Linked DNA regions of Homo sapiens: all the other regions are reported to be linked to region 1. Evidence: microRNA targets listed by miRTarBase, many of them from high-throughput screens and not tested one by one. Region 1 holds a microRNA gene; each other region holds the end of a gene's coding sequence.
The links. The annotated mature microRNA hsa-miR-4481 reads GGAGUGGGCUGGUGGUU and lies in region 1 at 2,709-2,725, shown strand. An mRNA with a match to its seed (bases 2 to 7 or 8) in the 3' UTR can be bound and repressed. Matches are read on the target gene's strand: a 7mer-m8 pairs with bases 2 to 8, a 7mer-A1 pairs with bases 2 to 7 and ends in A, and an 8mer does both.

Region 1 (4,473 bases):
TGACAACTTGTGCATCAATAGGTTCTTTATCTGCACAGACAAGTTTGTCAGCTGGACACAGAACAGAATTTTCTTGAGACATGAAGTTGTTTACACAGAAAAGACCCACTTTTCCTTCTCCCACATCAGCATCCACAATGCCTGGACTAATACAGAAACGCCCAAGTGATTTGCTCTTGTCTAGAATGGCTCTAGAGGTCCAGCTGAGGCCTGGCGGTCTTTCGACCAAAGGAGAAATAAGTTAGGTCCAGTTCAGTGTGAAAAATCCAGTGTGAAAAATCCAGCACATATCAACACTCAAGGAATGTTTATGGAAGAATGAATGAATGAATGAACAATTAATTCTCACCTTCCAAAAGTCTTACAGACTCCAGACATTCCAAAGCTACACACCAGAATGAAAAAAGGTTCTAAGATTTGACTGTGTATTTCTTTCCTATTTCTGTTACCATCCATGAGAAGTTACCAGTGAATGGGTGATACAGTTTGGATAGTTTTTCTTGCCCAAATCTCATCTTGAATTTCAATCCTCAATGCTTGAACATGGGGTCTAGAGGGCAGTGTTCAAGTCATGGGGGTGGATCCCTCATGGCTTGGTGCTGTCTTTGCGACAGTGGCTTCTTGTGTGGCACCTCCCCCTCCCACTCTCTCTCGATCCTGCTTTCACCATGTGACATGCCTGCTCCCCCTTTGCCTTCCATCATGAGTGTAAGTTTCCTGAGGTCTCCCTAAAAGCCGAGCAGATGCCAGCACTATGCTTCCTGTACAGCCTGCAGAACTGTGAGCCAATTAAACCTCTTTTCCTATAAATTACCCAGGCTCAGGTATTTCTGTATAGCAATGCAGGAACGGCCTAATCCAATGGGTCTCAAGCTCAGATACGTGCTAGAATTATCTGAGGAGTTCCAAATGTACTAATAACTGGAACATTTTTGGAGATTATGATTTGATTGGCCTGCGGCGTGGCCTAGGCGTAACAAGTTCTTTATAGTTTCTCCAGTGATTCAAACGTGCAGCCAAGTTTGAGAACCACTGGTAAGTCATTTATTACTAAATTACTGAGAATCTTAGGTCATGGGAAAGGGTTCAACTTTAGATACTTCAGAGCTGATAACTTCGTGGCTTCCGTGCCCATTTTAAATTTATCTAGGCTGAATACATTTATTTGATAATAAGTCTGATTTTTAAAGGTTAAGATCCAGGGTGTCCTAAGGATAAAGATTTAAGGCTACATGGCCAACCCATTACTCCTCTCAGGATAAGAATATGAAAAAAATAACATTTCTTAGCAAGTATAATAGTATTAGCAACTAATATTTCTTAGCAAGTAGTATTAGTAATACTTCTTCTACTATTTCTTAGCAAGACTTTGAAACACTAACACATTTAAAGGAATACTGTCATTTCCTTCTTTGAATCTTTTGGTAACTTTTTGTCAAAGGGTAATATATATTTCTGTGGGCATTTTAAACATGAAAATTAGCACCAGGAGTCTCAGAAAACATTAAGGTGTTTACCCGCCTTGAAACAGAGATTAACTCTTGTAGCTTGGATTTCCTAGCTTCACTGATGTGAGAACCCACATACACCAAATCACCTTAGAAAGGGAAATCTCAGAAAGCTTGTTTCAGATTCACTGTGGATGCTTACAAGGTGAATTTAGAAGCTATTCCTGTATGAAATACTGTTAATGACACAGAACTGCTGGGGTGTATCCTGCAGCTTCCTTCACATACTCTGTGCCCCAGATTGAAGACGCTGGGCTTGAATTCAGGAAGCATCTTTGAGGTTTCTAGCTCTGAACACTTGCATTTATATGAGGATAAGTAAGTGGAAGGGAAACAAAATAATGCACTGGAATCTAGGGGAAAGGTATTGTTTCTTTTTTCTTTCCTACCACTAATGTCCTGTGCTTTCTCTGTGCTGATACCCACATGGAAGGGTCCATATTTCACAACTCAAACCCATGACCATGTCAAGCCAACAGGTGCCCTGAATAGCACCTACTGAAATTGGAGGACCCAGTGCTGCTCTTTCATTCAAACGAGATAATGAAGCATCAGGAACACAGGCCAAAATGATCCTAGGCATTGCACTAAAGCTACTGGGGTATGGCAACATTTATTTAGAAAGTGGGAAGCCAATTGTAAAAGAAAAAGATGAGATGAAAATAGTAAGATGAAAAACAGAGAGGGAAGTCTGTTTTGAACAACCATCTAATTTCAGTTCACTGTCAGACTTAGGGGGATTGAACTCATACTGTATAATGTTCCTCATCATTCTGGGAAAGTGCCCACATTCAGAGATGATGGTGCAGAATTGAGTGTTCTTTAATTTTTGCACATCAGTAATTAACGTTGTCACATGGTTGGCTCAGGTCACACTCAGGCTTCAGATAACCAGGCACATTCCAATGGAAGAAAACATCTTTCAAGCACTCATATGTTGGGAATGAATTAGGGTGTTTGTGGTTCATTGTATGTGTGTTTTTAAACATAATTTCTTATTTTCTGATCATCTCTATCAGTGTGCATAATAAGGACAACTCTGTGCTATGGTATGAATATTTGTTTCCTCCAAAACTCACACTGAAATGCAATCCCTAATGTGGCAGTATTGTGAGGTGGGGCCTTTTAGAGGTGACTGAATCACAAGGGTTCTGCCCTTATGAATAGATTAACCCATTTGTGGATTAATGGGTCATCACAGGAGTGGGCTGGTGGTTTTTTAAGAGGAAGGGAGACCTAAGCTAGCACATGAGCACGCTCAGCCCCCCAGCCATGTGATGCCCCACAATGCCTCAGGACTCTGCAGAAAGAGTTCCCCACAGCAAGAAGGTTCTCACTAGATGCAGCCCCTCCACCTTGGACTTCCCAGCCTCCACAACTGTAAGAAATAAAGAAAAGGTTCTTTATAAACTACCCAGTTTCAGCTATTTTGTTATAAGTTATAGAAAACGAACTAAGACACCGTATTCTTTCTTAAGAATTAATTTCTTCATAACTGAGATGAGTCACAATTAAAAAGAGCAGCATGTTTTGCTTTGTTGATGTTTTTTAAACGAGGGGTGTGTAATACACATCCACCTCTCCAAATTGCAGTTTTATGATAGATCATTGTTAAATGCTAAGGTGGTCTGAGCTTATAGTTCTATTATATCCTGCTAATAAAAGACTATGATCAAGGATGTCAACTCAAGAAACTTCCTAGTGTAACCTCCAGGGCTATTTGCAAATTCTCAGGAATGACATTACAAATAGGTTGTGGCTAATAAACTCGTTACTATTCACCTAGTTTTCTTTCTTTCTTTTTTTTTTCGAGATGGAGTCTCGCTCTGTCGCCCAGGCTGGAGTGCAGTGGTGCACTCTCTGCTCACTGCAAGCTCCGCCTCGTGGGGTCACACCATTCCCCTGCCTCAGCCTCCCAAGTAGCTGGGACTACAGGCGCCCGCCACCACGCCCGGCTTTTTTTTTTTTTTTTGTATTTTTAGTAGTGACGGGGTTTCACCGTGTTAGCCAGGATGGTCTTGATCTCCTGACCTTGTGATCCGCCCATCTCTGCCTCCCAAAGTGCTGGGATTACAGGCGTGAGCCACAGCACCCAGCCCTAGGGAATTTGTTTTTAAAGAAGACTCTCCTACTAAAAAGTGAAGAAAAATAAACAAACAAAAAACAGAATAAAGATGGGGGCAAGGGAGTGGAGGGAACCAGTGTAATCAACAATTCAAAAGTGAAATTAAAAGCTTTCTTCCCCACTCCAACTAGTAAAGACTATTACTGACACATTTTCAAATACAAAGAGAAGATCTTCCCTCAAAAAGTTATTTCCGGCCGGGCGCGGTGGTCACGCCTGTAATCCCAGCACTTTGGGAGGCCGAGGCGGGCAGATCACGAGGTCAGGAGATAGAGGCCATCCTGGCTAACACAGTGAAACCCCATCTCTACTGAAAATACAAAAAAATTAGCGGGGCGTGGTGGCGGGCACCTGTAGTCCCAGCTACTTGGGAGGCTGAGGCAGGAGAATGGCGTGAACCCAGGGCAGGTGGCTTGCAGTGAGCCGAGATCGCGCCACTGCACTCCAGCCTGGGCGACAGAACGGGACTCCGTCTCAAAAAAAAAAAAAGTTATTTCCAAAGATGGTAATGAGCTCCTTTGTCCTAAATCTTTGGCCTCTTTACAGTTTCTTTAAAAACAAAAAAGAAGTTGTCCAGGCAGTATGGCTCACGCCTGTAATCCCAGTACTTTGCGAGGCCAAGGCGGGAGGATCACTTGAACCCAGGAGTTTGAGACCAGCCTGGACAACACGGTGAAATCCCGTCTCTCCAAAAAGAAAAAAAAAATACAAAAATTAGCTGGGTGTGGTGGCACGTGCCTGTGGTCCCAGCTACCCAGGAGGCTAAGGTGGGAGGATCTCCTGAGACTGGGAAGTTGAGGCCGCAATGAACCATGACTGCACCACTGCACTCCAGCCTGA
Region 2 (4,473 bases), not on the chromosome of region 1:
GAGCCTAGTCCATGCCACACCCACGCAGGGGAGGCTGGCACCTGCCACAGAGTGGAGGCCACGGCAGCAGGGCCGCTGCTATTCCTCAGGACCTAAACTTTGCCGAGTACATCCAGATGATTTAGAATTGATAGTAATTTTCTGTAGTTTGATTGAGTAGGACATTTCAGAATTACCGTAATACTATTCACAAAAGACAAAGGATATTCACCTTTGAAACAAATCTAGTTTTTTATCTGATCTCTAACTCCCCTTTCTAATTGCTGCTAAAATTACTTTTATTTTCTCCTTGTTTAAGGGCTGTTGAGAAGCCAGTTCAAAGTTATAAGTTGTCTATTTTAAACACTAGGATACTGAATTATTAAAATAACGGTTTCTGTTGGCACATGGATGTGTTTCTCTCTAGTAACCAGGAGCAGGGTTTCCAGCCTCACATTCTCAGGAGTCACGTGGCTCACTGTGCACTGTGCATTCCTGCTGTGTTTGTCTTCTGTTTCACAACCCATTGACTTAAACAAAACCAGATTCCTCTGTAGGATGCCCTTGCTAACCGCGCTCTGCTCCTGAGAAATCGTCCTCTGACTTCCTTAAGTGATAACTGCCCTTTCTGTCATTCCCCAAGATAAAGAACAATCATTTGAATCAAGCAATTCATGAGGAGCGCGAGGCCATCATCGAGCTGCGCGTGCAGCTGCGGCTGCTCCAGATGCAGCGAGCCAAGGCCGAGCAGCAGGCGCAGGAGGACGAGGAGCCTGAGTGGCGCGGGGGTGCCGTCCAGCCGCCCAGAGACGGCGTCCTTGAGCCAAAAGCAGCTAAAGAGCAGCCAAAGGCAGGCAAGGAGCCGGCAAAGCCATCGCCCAGCAGGGATAGGAAGGAGACGTCCATCTGAGCAGCCTGCGTGGCCGTCTGGAGTCCGTGAGACTGAAAGGACCCGTGCATCTTACTGTAACCCGGGGGCCAGGCCGGCTCTCTCGCTGTACATTCTGTAAAGGTGTCTTCTCTTCTCAGACTCTTCCTCTGTCACACGTCTGACTCCTTCACGTCAGGCTCAGGTTCCATGGGAGGACGAAGCAGTGGACGCATTGTGGGCTTTAGGGACAGATGAGTTTTCCAGATAGTGTCAGCTTATTTGAAGATTAATTTTCTTTGTTAACTTAAAATAACTATTTTAACCCTTGAGTGGCTTCTTTTTAAACCAAAAACCGTCTTTCTTTGCTTTTTTATCACAGCAGAATCAGGATCTCTTTCTCATTCAAGGGGGGAACCACCCCAGGTCAGCGCTGCGCCTGCTGTGGCCGCCGCGAGCCACGCCCTCTGGGATCTCTGGTACCGTCACTCTTGCTTGTGCCTTCCACACCTTCTCGGTGCAGATCCCTATGGGGGAGCTGCCTCACGTTCTCTGACTGGTCAGAGCAGCGCCTGGTGGGTGTTCCCTGGCCCACTCTCCTCTCTCCTTCTGCAGTTCTAAACCACAGTCTATAAGCCCGAGTCACCAGGACGGCCTGTCTGGCCACAGACAGGGGCTGCCTGTGGAGCCTGCCCACCGGCCCCCGGCAGTGCAGTCCAGCGGGGAGGAGGCTGCCCGTTCCTGCCAGTTCCTCACTGCGGGGACCAGCAAAGGCCTTCTCACTGGGTTGGTCAAAGGTAGTCACCTTGGCCTGGTGCATCCACAGAGGATGTTGTTCAAACCAGAAATCTTTTAAACGACTGACCTTCCTTAAAAACAGAATGACTCCGATTGCTTGCTTGGGCTAGAATGTACACGTCTCCTTGCCTGAATAAGCCATATATATGCTCTTAAACAAAAGTTTGAAATTATCCATATCATCTCAGTGAACCTACTGGTGGACTCCCAATTGACAAGATTGAGCAATAGAAAAAAATTCCTTTCCTTTGAATGATAGCTGTGATTCACCCCACCCCATTTTCTTGTTTCTGGTCCATCCGATGAGACGGATGCTCTGATGCTCTGAGGCTTCTGGGAGGCTGGGCCCTGGAGGCAACGTGCTGCAGGCGCACTCTGTCAGAGTGAACAGCACCGCGAGACAGGCCAGGCTCGTGGCTCGGAAGACAAACCCCACACACACTCAAGGGGTCGAAAACAAACCCCACACGAGGGCTCTCACCTCCTTCTCCTAGGTAGTATTTATTTTCAGCACCTGTTTGATGCAGTTTTTAATCCTCTACCTATTGCACTGTTGTGACTCGTTGGCCATTATTTGATTTTTGTACGAAAAAAAGCTTTGTTATAGAAATCAGCATACTATTTTTTTAAATCTGGAGAGAAGATATTCTGGTGACTGAAAGTATGGTCGGGTGTCAGATATAAATGTGCAAATGCCTTCTTGCTGTCCTGTCGGTCTCAGTACGTTCACTTTATAGCTGCTGGCAATATCGAAGGTTCCTTTTTTGTTTGTGTAAACTCTAATTTCTATCAAGGTGTCATGGATTTTTAAAATTAGTATTTCATTACAAATGTCTCAGCATTGGTTAACTAATTTTTGCCAGGACCATTATTGATCAAGCAAATAAATTCAACAGCCATTTGGGAAAAAGAAAAGCTTCTAGTTTTTTTGTACACATTCTTTCTGTGAGGAGATTGAGTACTCTGCAGCTGGCGAGGAGTTGGTTGAGGCACTTCTTCAAGGCCAAGGGGGAACACAGTGTTTTGTTTCCAGCTCACTTTGTACCCCTCACCTCTGCAGACACGGGGAGAACCCCGGACCCCTGGCATGCATGCTGGCGGCGGCATGCCTCCCTTCCACAAGCCCATGCTGCTGCAGAGGGAGCCTGTGTTTGCAAAACCCAGTGGACTGGGCTGGGTCTGCTGTCTGAGCAGCTCCTGGCTCCGGTGGGAACTGCACACAAGTCCACTGGCCTGGCTTGGCCCCAGGCATTGCAATTGACAGACATTTGCATTTCATACGGTAAATGAGGACTCAGCACAGCCAACCATAATCAGCATGTCTGGGATAGACTGGTCTAGAATAAAAATGAAGTTTCCATTGCTTTGTTTGCTTTAAAAATTCCACAATTAAAATATCTGTCATTGAAAGCTTAGACAAACAGCTGACTTCTCTGTTTTGTGTAGTTAAATCTATAATGTTAAATTTATATAGCTAAATTCTCCTTGATGGAAAGTCTCAAACGCCCTGATGGGGTACATTTAGCATTGGGGATCTGGAGATACTGAGGTGTGAGACCTGAGGTCACCTCCCAAGATGGGCTCTAGTGCTGTGTGATCTTTTTTTTTTTTCACTGCAGCTGTTTCTGTGAAGAGCACATTGCTTGTTATGTATTAGGATATCTTAAGAACAAACACACCTTCTGCGTCCAGCCAGGCTGAGCAAGATGCAGCCTGGGCTTTCTGGAGCTCTCGATGGGGACCCGTGCCCAATTCCATGTGTTCAGCCTCAGCCCTGGCCCATGGTTCTCATGAGGGATAGAAGGAAAAGCCGGAGTCAATTAGCAGGCAGAGGCTTCAGCATAAGATCCCACAGCTTTTAGGGAAGGTGGGCAGTGCCCCCTGGAATGTTCTAGACTAGATCCCAGGAGACCCAGGAGACGTGATAGCAAGCCTGGGCAGAGGAGGGGGCAGAAAGCCCTTAAATGCCACATGTAGGGGCTCTTTTGCAGAGCAGGAAGAGTACTGCTGCCCGTCACATGCCGGGTCCTCCGAACCTGCAAAGTGATGGATGCTCATTCTCTGCATTCTGGTGACTTTGCTGTTACTAGACAAGCATGATTCAACAGGTGTTCAGTTCAGCCCCAGCAGATCTCGGACATCCGACCTCTGCTCCCACCGCCTAGCTCAAGTGTCAAGTGCTGTGACCGGACATCGTGCTGAGCTGTTCCCGGGTCTCGTGCTAGAAACTGGCTTCTAGACAAACAGTGCGGGTACTGGAAGGAACGTGGACTTTAGGCAGGAAAGGCTTTTTTTATTTGTTTGTTTTTGGAGACAGAGTCTCACTCTGTTGCCCAGGTTGGAGTGCAGTGGTGTGATCTCAGCTCACTGCAACCTCTGCCTCCCAGTTCAAGCAATTCTCCTGCCTCAGCCTCCCAAGTAGCTGGGACTACAGGTGCACACCACTACCATGCCTGGCTAATTTTTTGTATTTTAGTAGAGACGGGGTTTTACCGTATTGCTCAGGCTGGTCTTGAACTCCTGAGCTCAGGCAATCCACCCACCTCGGCCTCCCAAAGTGCTGGGATTATAGGCTTGAGCCACCGCACCCAGTGTAGGCAGGAAAGTCTGGGTTTTCTTCATAACCTTCAAAAGCAGTCTTGTTGAACTTCAGTTTTTTCATTGGCAAAATGGTGGAGATAATCTTGATTTCCAAAGGCTGCTTAGATAAATAATGGCTAGTAAGTACCTGGCATAGGGCTTTTGGCGTCATACTCCAATTCATTTTCCCTACAGGACATGATCCGTGACTTAGTCATCATGTTATTAACATTAAACTTTATAGTGCA
Region 3 (4,473 bases), not on the chromosome of region 1:
AGGGACCAGCTGAAGCCATGGCAGAACGTGGATTGTGAAGATTTCATGGACATTTATTAGTTCCCCAAATTAATACTTTTATAATTTCTTATGCCTGTCTTTACTGCAATCTCTAAACATAAATTGTGAAGATTTCATGGACACTTACCACTTCCCCAATCAACACCCTTGTGATTTCCTATGCCTGTCTTTACTTTAATCTCTTAATCCTGTCATCTCATAAACCGAGGAGGACGTATGTCGCCTCAGGACCGTGTCATAATTTCGTTAACTGCACAAATTGTAGAGCATGTGTGTTTGAACAATATGAAATCTGGGCACCTTGAAAAAAGAACAGGATAACAGCAATGTTTAGGGAACAAGAGAGATAACCTTAAACTCTGACCACTGGTGAGCCAGGCAGAACAGAGCCATATTTCTTTTCTTTCAAAAGCAAATGGGAGAAATATCGCTGAATTCTTTTTCTCAGTAAGGAACATCCCTGGGAAAGAGAATACGCACCTGGGGGGTAGGTCTATAGAAGGCCCCCCTGGGCGTGGCTGTCTTCTATGGTCGAGGCTGTAGGGGTGAAATAGACTCCAGTCTCCCACAGCGCTCCCAGGCTTATTAGGAAGAGGAAATTCCTGCCTAATAAATTTTGGTCAGACCGGTTGCTCTCAAAACCCTGTCTCCTGATAAGATGTTATCAATGACAATGGTGCCCGAAACCTCATTAGCAATTTTAATTTTGCCTCCATCCTGTGGTCCTGTGATCTCGCCCTGCCTCCATTTGCCTTCTGATATTCTATTTACCTTGTGAAGCACGTGATCTCTGTGACCCACACCTATTCGCACACTCCCTCCCCTTTTGAAACTCCCTAATAAAAACTTGCTGGTTTTACGGCTTGTGGGGCATCACGGAACCTACTGACATGTGGTGTCTCCCCTGGATGCCCAGCTTTAAAATTTTTCTTTTGTACTCTGTCCCTTTATTTCTCAAGCCAGCCGACACTTAGGAAAAATAGAAAAGAACCTACATGACTATCGGGGCAGGTTCCCTGATAGCCCACTCCTGCTGGGGCCTCTGAGAAGCCTGCCAAGAGCCTCGGGGTGTTCCCTCCAGAAGACAAGAGCCTGGGGAGACCCCTACGCTGAGAGGAGGGCTGCCCCTCAAGGCAGAAAGCAGCACTGCAACAGCTGTGGGTGGATGGACTTTGGGGGTCCAGGCTGAGCCTCTAGTGTCTGCACGTGGGATGGGAGGCCGGTGTTTGTTGAGACTTGGACAAGTCTTGCAGTGTGGCAAGAGACGATGGCCAGTGTGCAGCAGAGAGCCATGCGGGGGTCAGCTCTCCTCCTACTGAGCCCTCTTCACCTCTCCCAGCCCCTACTGGTGCACTCCCATTTTTGCCTAAGCTGTATGAGTTTGGTTTCCGGAACTTGCACCCAAACTGTCCTTACTGAAGTACAAATGACATTATAAACCCGAAGCCCTGGAGACAAATGTGACCTCCCTTCGCTCTTGCTCTAGAAGCAAGGCCGGGTGGGCTGGGATCCCACCCTCAGAGAACTTAGGTTGTGAAATGCTCCAAGGGGTGCTTTTCTTGAAATTACTGACAACACCTAGTACCTGATGGCCAGTTCCAGATGCTAACAAGATGAAGTCGACCAACTGCTCCTTTTTACCAAACAACTTTTATTTGCATGTGGCTACTTAGTAAATAGTAATCAGTGATCATCCTAGACAGCTGCCAGGCAACAAAAGGAGAGACACATAGAAGCTTTTCAAGGTATCAGGTTGCAAAAAAAAAAAAAAAAAAAAAAGTATCAGAGTGATCAGAAAGTGAGCAGTGAGCAGTAGTGAAGCCAGAATTTTCTTTCCCATGACTCCTGTAGTTCTGTCCCTGTCCCCGCAAACCCCAGGAGGGGAAAAATGTAGATACAAAACTGTAAGGCCTCAAACCAGTTAGGACAAGTCCCTTTCTCGTAATAATTTATTTCATTCCCAATGACAGAAGGCACGTGCAGTTACAGGGCTGTGCCCTATTCGTCTGGGTCAACAGAAGAGCACAGCTTTCTTTAGAAAAACATTTACTTTAAAACCAAGCACCTTGATTTGATATTTTAGTGTGCACAACTTTGCCCGTTGAGGTCCTGGTGAGCCCTTGCCCAACCCCGTGGGCACCACCATTCCGCCAGGCCTCGGAGGGCCACCGGGTGCTTAAGAGAATGTGAGGGGGGTGAGTGCAGGTGGCGCAGCGCGGTTCCTGGGACATGGGTCCTTCACTCCTCGCTGAGATGTTGCGGCAGCCTTTTCTTCCAATGCGGTTGTGGCAGGAGAATCCACGGATGTAATGTTTTCACCTTTTTCCCTGAGGGTGCTTTCTGAGGAACCAGTCCTTAAGAGGTGGGGTCTTGGATTCCTGACCCAGGCGTCCGGCAGCTGCTCAGTTTCCGAGATGTCAGACTCATGGAGGAGCAGGCTATGCCCTTCCCTCCCCATTCCCCACCCCTCAAGCCCCAGGTCTTACTGTATAATGATTTATTTTCCCCACACGTCTACCCTCAAAATTGGCTTCATGCAAATTTCCCTTGAATCCTAATGCTGGAGAGGAAAGGGGAGGGGAAGTGGGAGGGTGGTGGGCAGGGTGGCTTGACCCTGTCAGCCTCCCAGGGAACTCGGGACCACGGCTCCCCAGCACAGGCTGAACAAGTACCAGGAACAAGGTCTATGCATCTGCGTTAGATCTGAAGGCCTTGGCAGCACCTCTTCAATTTTAAGAGAATCAGGCCGGGCGCGGTGGCTCACGCCTGTAATCCCAGCACTTTGGGAGGCCGAGGCGGGCGGATCACGAGGTCAGGAGATCGAGACCATCCTGGCTAATACGGTGAAACCCCATCTCTACTAAAAATACAACTAAATTAGCCGGGCACGGTGGTGGGCGCCTGTAGTCCCGGCTACTCGGGAGGCTGAGGCAGGAGAATGGCGGGAACCCGGGAGGCGGAGCCTGCAGTGAGTGGAGATCGCGTCACTGCACTCCAGCCTTGGAGGAAGAGCGAGACTCCGTCTCAAAAAAAACAAAATAAAACAAACAAAAAAAAGATCAGACTGAGTATTCCCCTAGACCTACTCTAGGGAAGCCCATAGCTGAGGCAAAATCCCCAAACAGACTTGGCATTAGTGGGGCTAGGATTCTCCATTAGTGGAGTGAGGGCTTTGATGTGAGTTGTCTAGAAGAGCAAGTTCATGGTCAGATAATTCCAAGAGACAGTTGTTTTCCCAGGAAAAAGAAAAGCTTCCTCCTATTCAGCAGAGTGAATTTAAATGTCCAAACAAAGTGTGGTGTCATCGCTCAGTCTGCAAGGACGTTCTGTTAATCCCGTGGACGTTTTAGTGGATCTTCCGTTTGTCATCCAGATGGCAAACGTTGGAAGCTGCTTTTGGGGACCAATAATTGGAGCTTTCAAAGAGCATTTCCCCCTTGGCCTGGCGCCTGTGCATCAGTGGTAATAGATGCTGAAGGCATGGAGAATGTAGAGCAGCGTGGCGATGAAGGCGAAGAACTGGAAGGAGGTGGAGAGTGACTGTTAGAGACAGCAGCGCCAGCTCCTGCCCACCCCTCAGGTACCCTCAGCCCCACTGCCCAGGAGGCCACGCATGACCCTGCCTCCTCGCCTCCTGCGTGGCCTGAGGGCAGCAACCCCTGGCCAACAACTCCCTCTTCTGGAAACTCTCCATCAGGGCCTCCCTGGGGCCGTCCTGGTGTCCTGCCCCGACTGCAGTCTCCACCTCATCTGCACCTGGCTGTGAAGCAGGCTCACCTCCACCACAGCTCTGGGCCCATATCCCACGCTGACCTCCTGCCCGAGGCCCGCTCTCCTCTGCCCACCTCCAGCAAATCTGTGTTCTGAACACTCCTACAGCTCCCCTCGCTGGCCCAGAACTCTGCCCTGAGCGGCTGCTTATCAGCTCCTCGTGAATGTTCAGACATCCTCCAGCTCTTCCTGGCTCACACTGAGCCCCTGACGTTTCCTCACAAGCCTGACAAGCCCAGTGGGCCCCAGGGTCCTCCTCTCGCCCCACTCCCTGAGCCTGACCCCTGTGGCCCCTGGCTCCTCCTGCCTCCCTTGCCAGCCATATGCAAAGCCACCCCAAAGGCTACTGATTTCCCTGCCTAGCTCTTGGGACATTCATTTTTCCCTTGTCTCAGCCACCGGCATCCCTCGGCAGGACTCCTCATGGCCTCACTTGTCCACTTCTTCCTGCCCTGCCCCTCGAATCTGCTCCACCATTTGGGCAGGGCAGGCAGAAGTGGACAAGTGAGGACACTTCTCACTCATGGGGAGAACACAATCCCGTTGCCCCACGTTGAAGCTGTATGATGGCTCTGCTCTTTTCTCAGGGTAGGGCCGTCACCTTCAATACCTTTCAGGCCCTGCCAAACATCCCAGCCCCACTCTGCCCCACTGTCCACTCACACGCTCCTCATTCAGTCA
Region 4 (4,000 bases), not on the chromosome of region 1:
GTACCCCCTTATTTGAGGTTTTGTTTTCCACGTTTTCAGATACCCAACTTCAACCACAGTCCGAAAATTTTTAATGGAAAATCTACAAATAAACAATTCATAAATTTTAAGTTGATCTTGGAGGTGGTCCAGTCAAGCTAGAGTTTCAGGTTTTGTCCGTTTCAGATGGCTGCCAAATGCAAGTAGGGCTCTTGAGTGTTTCCAGGAGGTGTGGCTGTGAGTTGTCTGATGAAATATTTTGCCATCCTGCTCCGTCCCACCCAGGACATAAGTCATCACTTTGTCTGGAGGATCCACACCATGCACTCCCTGCCCATCAGTCACTTAGAAGCCGCCGTGGTTATCAGATGGACTGTCGTGGTATCACGGTGCTTGCATTCCAGTAACCCTTATTTTACTTGACAGTGGTCCCAAAGCACAAGAATAGTGACGCAGGCAACTTGGATATGCCAAAGAGAAGCTGTAAAGTGCTTCCTTTACGTGAAAAGGTGCAAGTTCCTGACTTAATAAGGTAAAAAACAGAAAAACAAAAAACCCTCATATGCTTCTATGAAGCGTAAGAAACCCTCATAGGTTTCTAAAGATTTAAGGTAAGAATGCATCTTCTATCCATAAGAATTTTCTTAGTCTGTTTTCTGTGGTCATAACAGAATAGACAGGCATAAGGGAGAGTCACCAGAACAGGACACTGAGTAATTTATAAAGAAGAGAGGTTTACTTTGGCTTACAATTCTGGAGGCCTAGGAGTCAAAGATCTGCCCACTATATCTGGTCAGCTTCCAGTGAGGCCTCTGCCATGTCACAGCATGGCAGAGAAGTGGAAAAGGAAGTGAGTGTGCCAAAGGGAGCCAAGGCAAGGAAGAACCTCACTTTGTAACAACCAGCTCTGACAGTTACTAACCGAGTCCTGCTAGACAGAGTGCTTGCTTTGGGATCCGAGATTAGTTCTTCCTCACCCTCGCTGTTTGCGGAGGTGGCAGCTGCTTTCTTAACTGTGTCCAGGTGGTGACTGGCAATGCCTGTGGTGCTGCTGGGGGTAATCTGGTGCACTCAGGATGATCACAGCTCACAGGCCTCCAGGTCAGCCAGGTGCAGAGTGGCAACTCTGAGGTGAGCCCCTATGATTTGGATGTGCTGCTCATGGGCTGCTGCTGGCAGCACCCAGCAGGCATTGTAGGGGGTGGTAAAGCCCTGGAGAAGCCGCACTGTCTCACTGGGAGCATGCAGAGGAACAGGGATGGCAGCAACATGCCCGTTGGTGATTTGGTGACTTTGCTAACGGCATTAGACCGGGGTATGTTGGAGAAGTCTCTTTCCCCAGTTGGCAGACAACAGATAAGCTTTCTGTGGAGAAGATGTACTTGAGCCTTCTTGGTCTATGGGGTCATGATGCCAGGACCTTTGGGGACGAGGAGCTCCTCTCCCACAGCTGAGGCTAGAAACATACCAGCTGGTGGTTGGCTCTTCAAGCCCAGGGTGTCCCCCAGCCTACAGCATTCCTACCACCCTCCTCCTAGAAGCCCACCTTCCTGTGGGACCAGAGTGGTCTTAAAAGTAATTTTGGCAAATTTTACCTGGTGGTGACCTCCAAAACAGAGGCACAAAGTAAAGATAGAAGGCAGCAACACATGTGAAAACAGAACAAAAACTGCCAGACCCACTGTAGAGTGTTCCTCAGACCTCACCCAATCTCTCGATCAGAGCCAGGCCCTGGCCACTCTCCCTTGATCCTCCTGTAGAAATGGGTGTCATCACTCATTGGCTTACTCAAATTTCATCCTCACTGCTAGTTGTGTTCTGAGGTTTTGGGTGGTCCCAGCTAGCCAGCTTCACAAGGGTGATTTATCCCTGTCATCAAAGATGAGTCTTAGACACCATCTAATGCTCAAGTAGTTTATTCCAGCAGTGCTCTTACAAGACAGAAAGCAGGAGCTGGCTGGTGTCATAGGCCGGATATAGTCAGAGGTCAGATGACCAACTGACTAGGAGAGCTTCTATTTGAGGACCGTTCTCAGAGTTTGGGAGATCTTTCCCATTTCTTATACATGTATTCAGTCTGGGTCAATTACCAAGTGTTTCTTTCATAGAGCAAGTTTAATCTAGTAAGGTTAGGCTTTGTTCTAAAATTTATGAAAGTTGCATCTGTGCTGAGGTGGCCTTGTCTTCTGGAAATCCCTAGGCCAGGTTGCATCCTGCTAAGTGACATGTAATATCACCACTGTGAGATGCTTGAGTGGGCCTTATCGCTATCGTTAATCTTAAAGCCATGAGATGTTTCTTGTAGTATACTACAGTTATTAAAATATTCTCTTTCTAAAAAAACTAAATTTTATTTGTGAACTCCTTTCCTATGTATTTAAGTTCCCCGATGTTTTTAACCTAGGAAAAGAATCTAACCAAATGAATCCACTGAAGCTTCCCTTTTAAAGTCCTAAAATATCCTTTGGGGTTGTAAAACAGACTTTCAAAGGGCAGTAAGTAATTTCAAAAGCTTTCTCTTTATCAAGAGAATCAAAAGACAATATGGCAAAAGACAAACAGCTTGGCTCGTGATGCTTTGGCTACTTGTATATCTTCTGACAGAGCAGAAGAAAGAAAGAATGAAGGAAGGAAAGGGAGGGAAGACAAGGAAGGAAGAAAGAAGGGAGAACATAAGAGCAAACAGCAAAATATTAAAAGATTGATTTAAAGTTATTTTTAAATATCCATATAATCTGTCAGTCGATGTGTTTAAATGCAACAGTTACCATTTTTAAAGAAATGGTCTATTTGTCATAATCCTCTTTGTATACTTACTTTTGCTAATACCTATATTTCTAAAGAAAAGCAAAAATTTTTCTTACAAGAAATATGAACACAACTCTATAGTATCACAATGCATAATGGTACCAAGAGACAGAGCCCTCTCTCTCCCGTGAGTTAGATTTAACCTTAGTGAACACAAAATCCTTTATGATCCCACGCTCTCCATTAGGCAATGTCAGAAAACATCCACAGCAAATGCTATAATGCACTTCGAACATGAATAAACATCAAGGCTTAGCTGGTTTTGCTAATGTTTCCTCATGACTCAAAAAACTATATTTTTAAATACAGAGTTCACTTGCTACTTTCACATGAACTTATTTTTAAGAACTAAAACATTACCCTAAAAAGTATTAATAATTTATTAAGCACCACTCTAAAAATTATTTCTGTAGACCTTTTCCACACAAGAAAAAAAATCAACATTATTTGTCTTTTCAGTTCAGAGGTCTCATGGTATTTTTTAAACATACTTAAAAGCATTCCATTTGTGATTTTCATGTACAATGTGAAAGTCTGTCCAAAAGTCATCCAAACCTAGGGTCAATTATACCCTTAGATGCTAGTTTTGTAGCTCACATGCACCTGAGCTGCAGAACCTTAGCAATAATACTCTGGTCTGGAACCTTCACTTTTAAAAGTCACCTGAGATTCCACACTTGACCTAGAACAAAGCAGCAATTTCTCTGAGTCATCCCTGTGGCTTCGTGTCCAGAGCTCACCTACACTTTGAGACCTGGGAAACAGGGTCTCAAATTGGATATAAGTCTCCTTTGCCAAATCATCTTCCCAAAAAGGTTCTGATTTACATTGCAGTTTGCAAACTTTGTACAACAAGAAACAAATCAATGGTAAGATAACAACACAGGCAGTACTGGTCACCACGAGAAGGAGAGACCATTGAGAATCATCTCCTTCAACTCTTTCAGTAGAAAAGGTGATGCATTGGTCTTTCTGGGGAGGCACTCCTTTTGGACAGACACAGGCCATGTATTGCCCACCGGGTTCCAAGCCATCTATGGTTACTTGGTTCTTGCTGGAGTCTGCATTCAACAGCAGCAGGTCCTTCCCACCATACTTGGAATACAACACAGTCACTGCAGAGTTATGTGTGGTGTTGATCATATTCCACGTCAATGTCACACTCTCTTTAGTCTCACTGACCACCCTGAGGTTTTCTATTGCGGCATTTGTC
Region 5 (4,473 bases), not on the chromosome of region 1:
ATGAGCTCTGCTGCTGAGTAGGGAGCTTTTGCTTGCTGGGAGGCTCTATGCATGGATTTTTTTGGTGACCATACAGCTAGGGCTGAGGATGGGAACAGGGACAGAGGGCCTGGCTATCCCTAGAAGCACTTCATCCATCTTTACCCACCCAAACGGGATCCCTTCACATCTCATACCCAGTAAGATGCAAGAAAGGAATATCTGAGAGCAAGCAGCCCTGCTCCAGGGGCCCCAGGTATGTGTAGAGGCCCAGTGGGGGTGGCCACTTGGTGTTTCTACCACCCCCTGCCATCCAGTCTGGCCCCAGTACCTACCTGGGAGGTTGGTGTACTTGGCTTAAGTACTTCATGCTTTATTCAGGCTGCTTCCCCACAGCACCGGCAGGAAATGAAGGTGCACTTATATGCATCCCTGCAGGAATAAAGAGTGGGTGGCCTGCCCAGCCCAGCACCACAGCCTTTCCCCAGCCAGGAGAGACCACCTAAGGATCAAGGCAGCTCCTGTTTTCTTGGTTCTGTGACACTCGAGTCTGAGCCAGCCCCTCAGGAATTGCCTCAAAAGAGAAAAACAAAAAAAAGTCCTCCTTCCCAAGGCCTGCTACTCCAAGGTTTGGCTCCATCCCTTGCCTTTGGGTCCTGCCTATTTCCCCACTCCTGGTCTCTTATCTTTGGGGCCACCAGTGGGGAGTCACCCGGGCCCCAATCCCTCTAAGGCGCTAAGTTGAAGGAGGCCTTCCCAGAGTGACTATTGGTGCCAAAGTCCCAGTTCCTGTTGGACTTGGGGTAAAAACAGGAGATGGTGAGTGGGTGTAAGGCCCAAATGCCCAGAGAAGTTAACTCGAACCCATGGGACCTGTCCCAGCCTGTCAGTCCCTGATGAGTGTAACTTCCTTCCCCTGGGGGCCTGGCCCTTCTCTCCAACCCAGTGGCCATGCTTTCTCACCCAGCCTTGTGCCCGGCCTGCATTTCTGTATATATTGCTGTGTATTGTGTGTATGTATGTATTCCTGGACAAGTGTGTTCATCTGCAGCCCTTGCCTGAGGATAAGGTTTAGGATTGGGTAAAGATCAGAATACCAGGGCCAGCTAAGGCAACGACTCCCTCCCCAAACCCTTGGGACCTCAGCCAGTCCCAAGGCTGCCCTGACAATCAGGCAGGCTCCCCACCGTGAGGCCAAGCCTCCTCTGCCACTGCCAGCATGGCCCAAGGGAGGCTTGGCCTTGGGCTTGCCAGCCTCAGCTCTGCCCTGACAAGGGTCTTGTATCCAGGGCAGAGGCCTGAGGTGACCCAGGCTTGCTTTGTGGCTGATGCCAGCAGGCTTGGTTCTAGTGGGCACCACTGGTGGGCAACCTCCATAACTGGCCCTTAGGCCCTACCTTCCTACACAGCTAGGCTATAATGGGCCTGAGTGAGAGGGTAGCTTCCCCAGCCCCAAGCACAGGCAGAGGGGTGGAGAGCAATTTTTGGTTTTATTTTTGTTTCTGAAGTGGTGCCTGTACCTCCAGCCCCCAGGGGGCCTTCCCTGGCCACACTTCTCTGCCCCACCCAGGCATCGCCATCCCAGCACTTTGCTCCATGTCACCCGTAAGATGCCCTTTGCTGAATGTACCTGAGTGTATGTATTTAAAAGGACTCACATGGGCATCAGAGAATTTATGGCTCTGTATCCAATAAAAAAGATGGTGAAACTGGTCTATCTGCCCCAGAGAGGTAAATGGTATGTGGCCACACTTATCATCTGTGTTATCATGGTCTTTCTGCAGCTCAAGTGCAGAGAGGCAGGTAACCCAGGGGAATGAAGTATAACAAGACTTGCCAGCGGGCACAGTTGCTCATATCTGTAATCCTAGCACTTTGGGAGGCTGGGGCGGGAGAATCACTTGAGCCCAGGAATTCGAGACTAGTCTGGGCAACATAGTGAAACCCTGTCTCTGCAAGAAAAACTGAAAAATTAGCTCGGCATGTGCCTGTATTGCCAGCTCCTTGGGAGGCTGAGGTGGGAGGATATCGAGCCAGGGAAGTGGAGGTTACAGTGAGCTGAGATCACACCACTGCACACTCCAGCTTAGTTAACTGAGTGAGGCCCTGTCTCAGAAACAACAAAAACTTGCCTCAGGACTGCAGAAAAGCCACCTAGGGTGACTGTCCTGCCACCGCTCAACCCTGCTTTCAGTGTGTGTATCCAGAGGAAACGCCTTGAGATACATCATTTCTGACTCTCAGCTAGGAGAGACTACCTTCAAGGACAAAACCAGTACAACAGGGCAGCAGGCACTGCCCAGCCCCTCCCTGGCTTGACTGCCTACTCAGGAGGCTCTGGCCAGCCAATCAGGCTTTGACTGCGGGAGACCAGGTTGACATCATGGCCTGGCCTTGACTTCCTCATTTTACAAAATGTCCTTCTGCCCCTGACTTGATTCCTCAGGTCCTGAAATATTTAAAATCAGAAAAAAGAATAAGTGTTTTTAGGCTTAAACTGTGTCTCTAACATAAAAATAAACATTTAAGTCTCACTACTCTTTGAGCCAGCTACTCTTACCCTGTCATACAGGTAGAATAGCAGAGGCTCAGAAAAATTAGTCTACCTAAAGACCATCAAGTTAGGAGGAATGCCAGACTCCAAAGCCTGGACCTGCCTGCCATCCTCTGTGCTTTAGAGTCCATCTAACCAGGAGTGGCTGGGTTCAGAGAATTTTTTTTAAAAATCACTTCCCAGTTTTAGCTAGCAAGTCTCAATGGCTGACAATGACATCATCATTTACCTCCAGCTTTTAACAACGACCAACTACAGCAGGGTGCAGGCCAGCTATCAGGACCAGTGTAAATCAGGAGGATGTTAGACACTGCTGGATTTCCAGCTCATCTGTGCCAGCCATTCCAAACTCCCATTGGTCACAAGAAAGCAGAAGGACCAAGATCACTGGGGGCTGAACTGAAAAGACTAGGTGGGTGCTTTCAGTCGTCTCCTTAGTAGACTTCCAAGGGATCACTAGAGTTTAGAGAGCATAAGCCCTCCCTAAAACACCCTTCTCACAGTCTTGAGTAAGAGGGAACAAAAGACTAAACCAAAAGAATATGGAGATAGAAGGGGCAGACAAGGTAATGTAACCCATTTACTCAAACCAGAGAAACCCTGAGAGCAGTGTCTGGCTAGGCCAGGGCTAAATAAGATGATGCCAGAAGAAAGCAACTGCGTGTTGTCCAGCCACTTCTGGAACAAAGAATGCAACCACAGTGAAACTTCCAGACGGGCCACTCTAGTGGAGCTCACCCCAGGATGCTCTTGTCTCCCTGTTGGACAAGTGCATGTAAAGCTAAAATTCTGAGCTACAGCCAGACATTTATGAGTACCATGCCAAAATAATTTACAAAGTTATCTGAAGTCTTACATTTTATTTAAATAGCCTCCAGTAAGAAGAGAGTGGGCCAATTACTACCCCTTCCTTGTAAAATGAAGTAACCAAGCCAAGGAGGGTAAGTGCACCCAGCAGCCAGCCAGCCATGTGATGGGTGGGGTGCCTCTCAGTGGGGGCGGCCACGACCACGGCCCCGGCCTGCTGCTGTGGGAGCATCCACAGTCGAGCGGGGGTTCTTGATGGTTTCATCTACAGACACGATCAGGCACGCAGCCTCAGAGGCTGCTGTCAGCGCATTGATCCGCACCATAGCTGGCTCCCACACGAAAGCTTCAAAGTTGTCAGCAATGTCCTCGTTGTTGATGTCTACTCCATACCATGTACCCCCCTAAAAGAGTAGGAAAAGAAAGGAGGTAATATGGAACTACTTTCAACTTTCCTCTTGTAAACTGGTACTCCAAAAGACACTGCTAGGAACCCGCAGACTCTCTGAACTTGGTGGCATTTCGCTGAAGAATACTGCATCTTCCTATGAGCATGCCAGGAACCTGGAAACACCCCTACTCCCGCCAACTCCTCCCCTTAGCCCTGGACATACCACACAAGACCTCTGGGATCTTCTCCCAGGCAAGCTGTTGTGTTTTGGGGCGGCCCCATCCTCAGGTCACCTGAGGACTATATATATATATATATATATATATATCAAACAATGAGTTCTCAAGATAAACAGGAATAACAAAAATACTATCCCATCTTTCATCTCATTGCTTCAAATAGCCCGATTTTACAGATGAGGCAAGTGAGACACAGAGGTAAAGTGACTTTAAGCAAAAGTCCTAATACAAGCCAGAAGCAGGGTCATTCACTGGGTGCTAAGCACTTAACAAACCTCTATCTATTTAACAAATGGAGAAATTAAACTCTCAGAGAGGTTGAAGTAACTAGCCCAGGGTCACACTTGTAGGGCTCTGGAGAGCTTCACCACACCAGTAAGCCCACTCCATGTGGTCAGTATGTGCTTCCAGGAAGGTGGATGCAAGGTTCCTCCTGTGGTACCATAAGAAGCAATCATACTCTTTTTTTTTTTTTGAGATGGAGTCTCACACTACCACCCGGG

Region 2: miRTarBase lists RALBP1 as a target of hsa-miR-4481. Seed matches in the 3' UTR shown: 7mer-m8 at 1,438-1,444.
Region 3: miRTarBase lists MALL as a target of hsa-miR-4481. Seed matches in the 3' UTR shown: 7mer-A1 at 2,991-2,997.
Region 4: miRTarBase lists LRIT3 as a target of hsa-miR-4481. Seed matches in the 3' UTR shown: 8mer at 2,231-2,238.
Region 5: the mRNA of CCT7 is a reported target of hsa-miR-4481. Seed matches in the 3' UTR shown: 7mer-m8 at 3,420-3,426.

The regions. Positions count from the first base shown.
Region 1 is chr10:12,651,433-12,655,905 of GRCh38, reverse strand. MIR4481 (microRNA 4481) reads left to right here and starts at 2,709; the gene lies at 2,709-2,768. The region is part of intron 2 of CAMK1D (calcium/calmodulin dependent protein kinase ID); the gene reads right to left.
Region 2 is chr18:9,535,049-9,539,521 of GRCh38, forward strand. RALBP1 (ralA binding protein 1) reads left to right here. Exons shown (of 10, transcript NM_006788.4): 10 at 623-3,066. The coding sequence ends at 889. Among named protein-coding and RNA genes, the nearest start is that of RALBP1, 62 kb to the left of the region's middle.
Region 3 is chr2:110,082,218-110,086,690 of GRCh38, forward strand. MALL (mal, T cell differentiation protein like) reads right to left here. Exons shown (of 4, transcript NM_005434.5): 4 at 1,653-3,540. The coding sequence ends at 3,478. It overlaps MIR4436B1 (microRNA 4436b-1), which reads right to left and starts at 4,306; the gene lies at 4,216-4,306.
Region 4 is chr4:109,870,195-109,874,194 of GRCh38, reverse strand. It overlaps LRIT3 (leucine rich repeat, Ig-like and transmembrane domains 3), which reads right to left. Exons shown (of 4, transcript NM_198506.5): 4 at 1,880-4,000. The coding sequence ends at 3,406. Among named protein-coding and RNA genes, the nearest start is that of LRIT3, 24 kb to the right of the region's middle.
Region 5 is chr2:73,251,911-73,256,383 of GRCh38, reverse strand. It overlaps CCT7 (chaperonin containing TCP1 subunit 7), which reads right to left. Exons shown (of 12, transcript NM_006429.4): 12 at 3,379-3,744. The coding sequence ends at 3,523. FBXO41 (F-box protein 41) reads left to right here. Exons shown (of 13, transcript NM_001371389.2): 13 at 1-1,694. Among named protein-coding and RNA genes, the nearest start is that of CCT7, 20 kb to the right of the region's middle.